Linked DNA regions of Homo sapiens: region 2 is linked to region 1. The links come from fine-mapping of genetic effects on gene expression. A gene starts in region 1. The other region holds a variant in brackets. All regions are shown on one strand. Distances are between the middles of the regions.

The links. PIP is the estimated chance that this variant, and not a neighbour inherited with it, causes the effect. A credible set is the group of variants that fine-mapping cannot tell apart.
Region 2: its variant is the best candidate, but not a certain one, in a credible set for the expression of MRPS23 in whole blood (TOPMed, PIP 0.55).

Annotation. Positions count from the first base shown.
Region 1 is chr17:57,847,401-57,851,787 of GRCh38, forward strand. It overlaps MRPS23 (mitochondrial ribosomal protein S23), which reads right to left and starts at 2,644. Exons shown (of 5, transcript NM_016070.4): 1 at 2,567-2,644; 2 at 1,840-2,010. The coding sequence starts at 2,610. RefSeq lists enhancers at 2,625-2,954, 2,630-3,139.
Region 2 is chr17:57,825,853-57,830,239 of GRCh38, forward strand. No RefSeq gene overlaps it. Among named protein-coding and RNA genes, the nearest start is that of MRPS23, 22 kb to the right of the region's middle. The variant A/G (reference allele first, on the strand shown) is at 1,916.

The DNA.
Region 1 (4,387 bases):
GCCTGTAATCCCAGCACTTTGGGAGGCCGAGGCAGGCGGATCACGAGGTCAGGAGATTGAGACCATCCTGGCTAACACGGTGAAACCCTGTCTCTACTAAAAATACAAAAAATTAGCCAGCTGTGGTGGTGGGCGCCTGTAGTCCCAGCTACTCAGGAGGCTGAGGCAGGAGAATGGCATGAACCCGGAAGGCAGAGTTTGCAGTGAGCCGAGATTGCGCCACTGCACTCCAGCCTGGGAGACAGAGTGAGACTCCATCTCGAAAAAAAAAAAAATACTTAGATCAGAAAAAAACAAAACTTTTTTTTTTTTTGGAGACAGGGTCTCCCTCTGTTGCCCAGGCTGGAGTGCAGTGGTGCACTCTCAGCTCACTGCAACCTCCACCTTCTAGTTTCAAGCGATTCTCCCACCTCAGCATCCAAAGTAGCTGGGACTACAGGTGCCCACCACCAAGCCCGGCTAATTTTTGGTATTTTAGTCAAGACAGGGTTTCACCATATTGCCCAAGGTGGTCTCGAACTCCTGAGCTCAGGCAATCTGCCCACCTCAGCCTCCCAAAGTGCCAGGATTACAGGCGTGGGCCACCGTGCCTGGCCCAGAAAAAAAAAATTCTTAAATAATCATTATCAATACTGACAAGGATAAAGTAAGAACTCTCAGAAACTGCTAATCAGAGTGTAAACTAAGACAACTACTTTTTTTTTGGTAGAGACAAGTCCTGCTATGTTGCCCAGGGTGGTCTCAAACTCCTGGGCACAAGCTATCCTCCCTTATGCCTCCCAAAGCACTAGGATTACAGGCACAAGCCACCACATCCAGCCTGTGATTTCTTTTTATGCTTTCTTTGTGTATCTAAATTTTCTACAAGTAGCATGTGTTGCTTTTATAATAAAAGAGGAAGTATTCTTGCCACTGAGCTTAAGAAAAAGAAAAAAAAAGAGAAAAGGGATGCTAAAAAAAAATAAAGAACACATGATTTTCCTTCAAATTCCTAGTGATTGTCTCTCTCTGTCGCCCAGGCTGGAGTGCAGTGGTGGGATCTCGGCTCACTGCAACCTCCACCTCCCAGGTTCAAGCAATTCTCCTGTCTCAGCCTTCCGAGTAGCTGGGACTACAAGCACCCACCACCATGCCCGGCTAATTTTTGTATTTTTAGTAGAGACGGGGTTTCACCATGTTGGTCTGACTGGTCTCGAACTCCTGACTTCAGGTGATCCGCCCGCCTTGGCCTCCCAAAGTGTTGGGATTACAGGCGTGAGCCACCGCACCCGGCCTCTCTTAGACTTTCAAGCATCCTTTCATCTGAGTGGCTTCAAAGAGCCGGACTACTAGATCCACAGACCACGTTCCTCCTATCTCCACTCGTGGAGAAGGCCGGCATAATGATCACCATAAGCTTGGAGTCAGAGATGTGATTCCCAGATCTGCCACCCTCCTATATATTTAGTAATTACAAGAAGTTAGCTAATTTCCTTGAGCTTCGCAGTCTCCTTGAATAAAATGGAAACAAGAATGCCTTCCTTACAAGTTAGAGTAAGGCCTTTAGAGAATGAGATAATGCTTGCAAAGAGCTTAGTACAGTGCCTGGCCCAAAGCAGATGCCCAGAAACATGCGGCTATAATTGCAATGATCTTTCGGTTGCTGGGCTCCAGATTCCACTTTTCAGAACTTCAGTTTCACTATGAGGAAGGGGTGCTGCCTCCCTAATTTGGCTAGATAAGCCTTCTCCACAGGGCAAACCCCTGACTCAATTTCATGTTTGAATTCCCAGACTGCTACCGAAACCTTCCCTTCTGAAGTTCTGTTGCCTCCTGTCCACTACAGGGCTGAGCACTCACGCTCTAATCCGATCCTCGTGGTACCAGATGTCTTGGATGGGAGCTTTGGCTTTGCCATATCGCACTCGAGGCCTTTGGAAGACGGGCTCCCTCAGCGGGGGAAAGGCGTCATATACGTCAAACCACAGGGGCTTCTCCTTCAGCACCCCGGCCCGAACCAGGTCCCGAGTCCTTAGGGAGGGAACAGAACGAAACTGGGTCACTTGCAGTAGCCTGCCAAAGCCCCTGAATCAGTCTAGCACAGTTTGGGACATTAAAGGTATTATGCGGTCTGCAACACAGAACGGGGAAGGACTGCTCCCCACCTACAGAGAAGATCTGTCCACATCCCAAACCAAACTTAACAACGCTCAGGAGAGTTAAATCCCTCTATCTTCTTTTGTGCGTCCCACCCACGTTCGGTCACGGAAAAATGCAAAGAGCGGTCTTGCATGACCTGATAAGGAAGGCCCATCAGGCTCTTCCTCCCTTCCTCTTCCTAGAGACCTCCACTCGGGGAGAGGCAGCTGCAATAATCTTTAACATGACACATAAATTCAAGGAGAGGCATCCTCAGGCACAACTATTCGGAGCCAGGAGAAAACATGAGAGGGCCTCACCCAGCTCAGCCCCCGCACCCTGCAATACGCCTCGCCCTGCTCAGGTCCGCTCCAAGGAAGAGCGTGACCGGCTGAGAACCCCAGCCTGGGGGAGGCACCCTCAGCCCACCACGGCTGGGAGCACACACCGAGAGAAGATGCTCCCTACGGTTTCCAGCCGGCTGCCTGCCATGATCTGCGCCTGGTACCGAGCGTGACTAGCTGCTACCGGAACCGGAAGCGGCTGCTCCAGGTAAAGGGCGCATAAGTTGCTGGCCGAGCCAAGGATCGCTGGGCTTTCACCGCAGCCCCTGCGGGAGAGCGGCGCAGGCAGAAGCAAGTGATAGGCCGAACGGGCGCGCTCCGAGGTTACTTGCCAGGTTCAGGCAGGAGCACTCGATAGCCGAGCCAAAAGGGCAGGAGCGAGCCAAAGCCGGACAGAAGTAATAAATGACCGAGCTGTGGGAGGGATTCATCATGATGGTTGCTTTACTCTCTCTCGCCTTGTTGAGCCAACTCCTCTGAAAAGGTGGGGCCGCGCGGAGGAGAAGTAGTGGGGCAGAGCAGGGGTGAAGCGCAGCCTACAGTCCTAGGGGAGCCAACAAAGGCCGAGATTTGAGGTCACCAGCTCTAGGCCCAGGCTGAGCCTAATGTTGTTTAGAGTCACAGACTACGCAGAAGAAAACCAAGGCCGGGGAGGGGCCGTCACTTGCCCAGCGTCGTGCTAGATCTCGGGCCTCCGCCTCTGGCTGTGTAGTGCTCCCCACTAAGCCCCTCGTCCCCGGAGTGCCACCTGCATCCACGCTAACTAGGATGCTGGCTGCAACTCGTGTTTCCCGCGGCCGGTGTCGCGGGCTACCTCCTCCTTGGAACTCGAAAAGTGAAAGTGTCCGGAACAAACAGACGCCGAGAGGGAAACGAAAAAATCTGGAGAAAGTCATCTCTCAGTGTTAAACTGTAAAAAAATATAAACTGTGTGTAGCATACCCTTTGACCCAGTAATCATATTTCGGGGAAAGAACCCCTTAGAAATTAAAGCATCAATTCATGAGGATGTTTGTGCAAGGATCATCGTTGCAGCATTGTTTGTAGTGGGAAAAAAAATCCATCAGATGAGAAATAGCTGGAAAATTATTGTTCATACTTTCTTTGGAACCCTATGCAGCTATTAAAATGAATGAGCTAGATCCACATGTATTTACCAAGGTTAAGGTACATGACTTATGTTTAAATGAAAAACGAAGTTGCAAAGAAACATGTTTAGTGGAATCTCAACGTGTTAGAAAAAAAAAAGGAAAAAGAAACACCTCTATATATGTTTGTGTTTGAGGATAGAAATTCTGCAGAAGGACACCCAAGGCTGTGAACATTGGATATCTCGGAGTGAAACTGCAGGCAGGCAAGGGAGAATTTTTTCTTCCTTTACACATGCTTCAGAGTTTGACTTGTAAAGAGATTGTATTCATATTTGAACTTTTAATCCAATGAATGTTTTGAATCACACACAATGTCTCCTGGGAGCCTAGTCAAGTCATCCTAGAGTCCTCCCACTCTGAGGCTGGTGAAGGGGAGGACGGGACTGTTTGATGAGTAGTTACTGCTTGTGTGTGTTATCTTACTGAATCCACATACCTTCCCATAAGGTAGCTATTAACATCCTCATTATAGATGAGAAAGCAAGGCCTCAGGAAGTTACATAACTTGTCTGATAAGCAACTGATAGAGCCAGCCTTGGGGGGGTGGGGCAGCCAGGGCCCTTTCCAGTGCCTCACAATGCCGCCTAAGCTATGCCTAAAGCTCGAGGCTGGTAGGCTCAAGAGTCCAGCAGAACGCCGCTCCCCACCCGCCCCCCCCACAACACACACACACACACACACACACACACACACACACACGCACGCCAGGGATCCAGTGATTTGAGGCCCAGGGCTAACCTGAGGTGGATTTCACTGCTGCCTCCAGACCCTCTG
Region 2 (4,387 bases), 22 kb before region 1:
CATGAAGGACATTAGTGATATGGCATTTCTTAAAAGAATGTTCCATTAGTGCTTATGAGACCAAGTCTTACACTATATACCAGGAATATTTTCAATGCTTTTCACCTATTAAGTCATTTATTTTCGCCTCTATTAGATAGGTGGTATCATTAGCCCCATTTTACAGATGAAGAAACAGAGACGAGAAGAGGAGGTTAAGTCACTTGCCCAAGGTCACAGAACTAGTAAGTGGCAGGGTTGGGGTTTGAACCAAGGCAGCCTGGCCCCAGAGCCATACTCTTAAAGCCTACATATTCATACATCTAGTCTTAGAATAGAATATTGTACAGCAGTGAAAATGAATTAACTAGAGTTACATGTGGCAAAACAGGTGAGTTTCAAAAGAAAACTCTTGAGTAAAAAGATCAAATTACAGAGGGATACATGCAGTATAAAGCCACTTTTATAATATTTTTAAATGTGTAAAACAATACTGTATGTTTATTATAGATACATACGTTTGTAGAAAAAATTATTATTTTTTAAGTAGGGAAGATAAACACCAAGTCCAGGAAAATATCCACCACGAGAGTAGGGACAAAGAAGAAAGGGATCAGGAATGGATACAAGAAGCTCATGTCTTAACCTGGGTGATGGGTAAGTAGATATTTGTTGTAGAGTCTCTGTAATTTTTGAATGCCTGAAATATTTCATAATAATCAAAAATAATGCCATCTCCTACTCCAGAGCTGCATGTAACTGTAAATTAAGCTCTGAATTTCCCCACAGCCAAAGCTAAGAGGGAAACTAAGACACCAAATTTGCCAAGACCGCAGAAGCAAACCACCCAAGTTGTTCAAAAGCAGCACAGTTTTTTATTCCTTAAGCTAAAACGTGAAAGATATTTATCCCACGGGTCTTCATAGAGGAAAAAATGGTCAGTAACATTCCCACAGAAAAAAACAAAAGTATGCCTCATACAACCATTTCCTAGCATCCCTCAATGCATTGTAACAGCTTAATGTCAAAGCAGGCTTCAGAAGCAGCAGCTCAGCTGGGCGAGGTGGCTCACACCTGTAATCCCAGCACTTTGGGAGGTCAGGAAGGAGGATCGCTTGACCCCAGGAGTTCAAGACCAGGCTGGGCAACAAAGAAAGACCCCATCTGTACAAAAAAATTGAAAAATGAGACAGGGTCTCATACACCTGTAGTCCCAGCTATTCAGGAGGCTGAGGCAGGAGGATCGCTTGAGCCTGGGAAGTAGAGGCTACCGTGAGCTTTGATCATGCCACTGCACTCCAGCCTGGGTGACATAGCGAGACCCTGTTTCCAAAAGAAAAAATTAAAAATAATTAAATTTTAAAAAAGAAGCAGCTGCTCTATAAAGGGAACTGTCTTTATTGCCAGCTTCTGGGACATTTCCAGAGAGAACAGACCTTCATGAGCAAGAGGGAAGCAGGCCGACTTGACCACAGTAGCCTGGGGACTGACACAGCCTTAACTCTGGGAAGGACCCTCCTTCAGATTCCTGCTCAGGGGCCTGGGACCCATAGCTGCAGACAAGCCATAAAGATATCCTACAGTCCTGGGATCTGAAAGCATTCACCCTCTGTTTAGTTCTTCTCATGATCACTCAGACTTCTTGGACCCTGAGTCCATCCAGCTGTCTGTTGAAACCATTGGCTCTTACCTTCATCTTACAAAGGCGGGAGCCAGCTAGGCACCGTGGCTCACACCTGTACTCCAGCACTTTGGGAGGCCGAGGCGGGCGGATCACCTGAGGATGGGAGTTAGAGACCAGCCTGACCAACATGGAGAAACCCTGTCTCTGCTAAATATACAAAATTAGCCGGGCCTGGTGGCACATGCCTGTAATCCCAGATGCTCAAGAGGCTGAGGCAGGAGAATCGCTTGAACCCAAGAGGCGGAGGTTTCG[A/G]TGAGCAGGGATCCCGCCGTTGCACTCCAGCCTGGGCAACAAGAGTGAAACTCTGTCTCAAAAAAAAAAAAAAAAAAAGCAAGCTGATTATTTAGAGATGTAAAGGTACCCACCAGACGCACTAAAAACAGAAATGGTTAAAACTAGTTGGCCCCAAGAACAGGCCTGGGGTCGGAGGGGTGGAGAGCCTGTTCAGAAAATTGTGGGGAAATTTGAAAATGGACTGAGTACGAGGAAATCTTCAAAAACTGGCTGTTAAATGCCATGTTGTTGGGTTTGATAATGGTATTGTATTGATATAAGAAAGGGTCTTATTTTCCAGAGAAGCAGGCTGAAGCCTTGGGTGAGAGAGGTTTTGTGGGAACTTGCTTTAAAATGCCTCAGAAAAGCTGGAAGCTGTCGCTCATGCCTGTAATCCCAGCACTTTGGGAGGCCAAAGTGGAGGGATTGCTTAAGCCCAGGAGTTCGAGACCGGCCTGAACAACATGGTGAGATCCTGTCTCTACAAAAACTCAGAAAATGAGGCGGGCAGATCCCTTGAGCCCAGGAGGTTGAGGCTGCAATGAGCCATGATTGCACCACTTGCCCTCCCACCTGAGTGACAGAGCAAAACCCTGCCTCAAAAAAACAAACAAAAAACAAAACAAAAAAAAACACTTCAGAAAAAATATAGATGAGCAAAAACAGCAAAATATTAATAATGGTTTAGTCTACATGATAAACATATGGAGGATCTTTATATGATTCTTTTTTTTTTTTTTTTTTTTTGAGATGGAGTCTTGCTCTGTCGCCCAGGCTGGAGTGCAGAGGCGCGATCTCGGCTCACTGCAACCTCCACCTCCCAGGTTCAAGCAATTCTCCTGTCTCAGCCTCCCGAGTAGCTGGGATTACAGGTGCACGCTGCCATGGCTGGCTAACTTTTTGTATTTTAGTAGAGACAGGGTTTCACCATATTGCCCAGGCTGGTTTCCAACTCCTGAGCTCAGGCAGTCCACCTGCCTCGGCCTCCCAAAATGCTGGGATTACAGGCATGAGCCACTACACCCAGCCAATTCTCTCTACTTTTATGAATGCTTCCATAATCAAATTTAAAATGTGGGTTTGTTTTGTTTTGTTTTGTTGTGTTTGAGACAGGGTCTCGCTCTGTCAGTCAGCCTGGGGTGCGGTGGCATGATCATAAATCGAGGTTTCAGTGAAACCTCGAACTCCTGGGCTCAGGGGATCCTCCCACTTCAGCCTCTGGAGTAGCTGGGACTACAGGCACACACTACCACGCATACCTGGCTAATTTTTAAAAAATTTTTTGTAGAGATGGGGGTCTCACTATAATGCCCAGGCTAGTTCCGAACACCTGGCCTCAAGTGATCTGCCTACCTTGGTATCCCTAAGTGTTGGGATTACAGGCATGAGCCACTGTGCCCAGCCTGAAAAGATTTTAAAGAAGTATTTAATAAATCTTGGAAGATGCTGATTCTGCTCTTCTTGGAGCTCCGCTTGGACCCATGGACCCAAAGAACAGGACTTCAGGGATCTTGTAGCTCAACCCCCTCATCTTACAAATGGCTAAAAAGGTTTGAAGACTTACCAAAGTCATACAGCCAACAAATGGATGAGCTGGGGCCAGGCTGGGGTCTCCAGGAGCCTTACCCAGTGTCCTATCTACTGTCTCATGTCTGCCTCATTTTTGGACAAAAGGAGCTATTTTTAAATGTCAATAAAGAACCGGGGTACACTCAGTTCTTTTTTTCTTAAGGCAGACATTGCCTATGGGTCGATGGGTTCTCATCGTAAAAAACCCCTGACTATACCCGGAAAGTTTTATTCTCTTCAACATAAAATTAAAGTATATTCAAGTCCTTTAGATCTTACAGCCACTCCTTTGGGGGTTGGCAAAGCATGTGTCAGTCGAGCAATAAACATCTGTCATCTAGAGCTCATTAATATTAATTACAAGTGGCCAGTGGCTCAGGGGACCTCAGTCCTGCAGATGAGATTTTCCTAAATTTGACCTTCTTAGACTTACAGGTGTTTAAACTGGTTCTTTTAAGAAGCCAGTCTATGGCCAGGCGCAGTGGCTTATGCCTGTAATCCCAGCACTTTTGGAGGCCGAGGACGGTGGATCACTTGAGGTCAGGAGTTCGAGACCAGCCTGGCCAACATGGTGAAACCCCGTCTCTACTAAAAATACAAAAATTATCTGGGTGTGGTGGCACATGCCTGTAGTCCCAGCTACTCAGGAGGCTGAGGCAGGAGAATCACTTGAACCCAGGAGGCGGAGGTTGCAGTGAGCCAAAATCACGCCACTGCACTCCAGCCTGGGCTACAGAGCAAGACTCCATCTCAAAAAAAAAAAAAAAAGGCCGAGGGCAGTGGCTCATGCCTGTAATCCCAGCACTTTGGGAGACCGAGGCTGGCGGATCACCTGAGGTCTGGAGTTCAAGACCAGCCTGACCAACATGGTGAAACCCCATC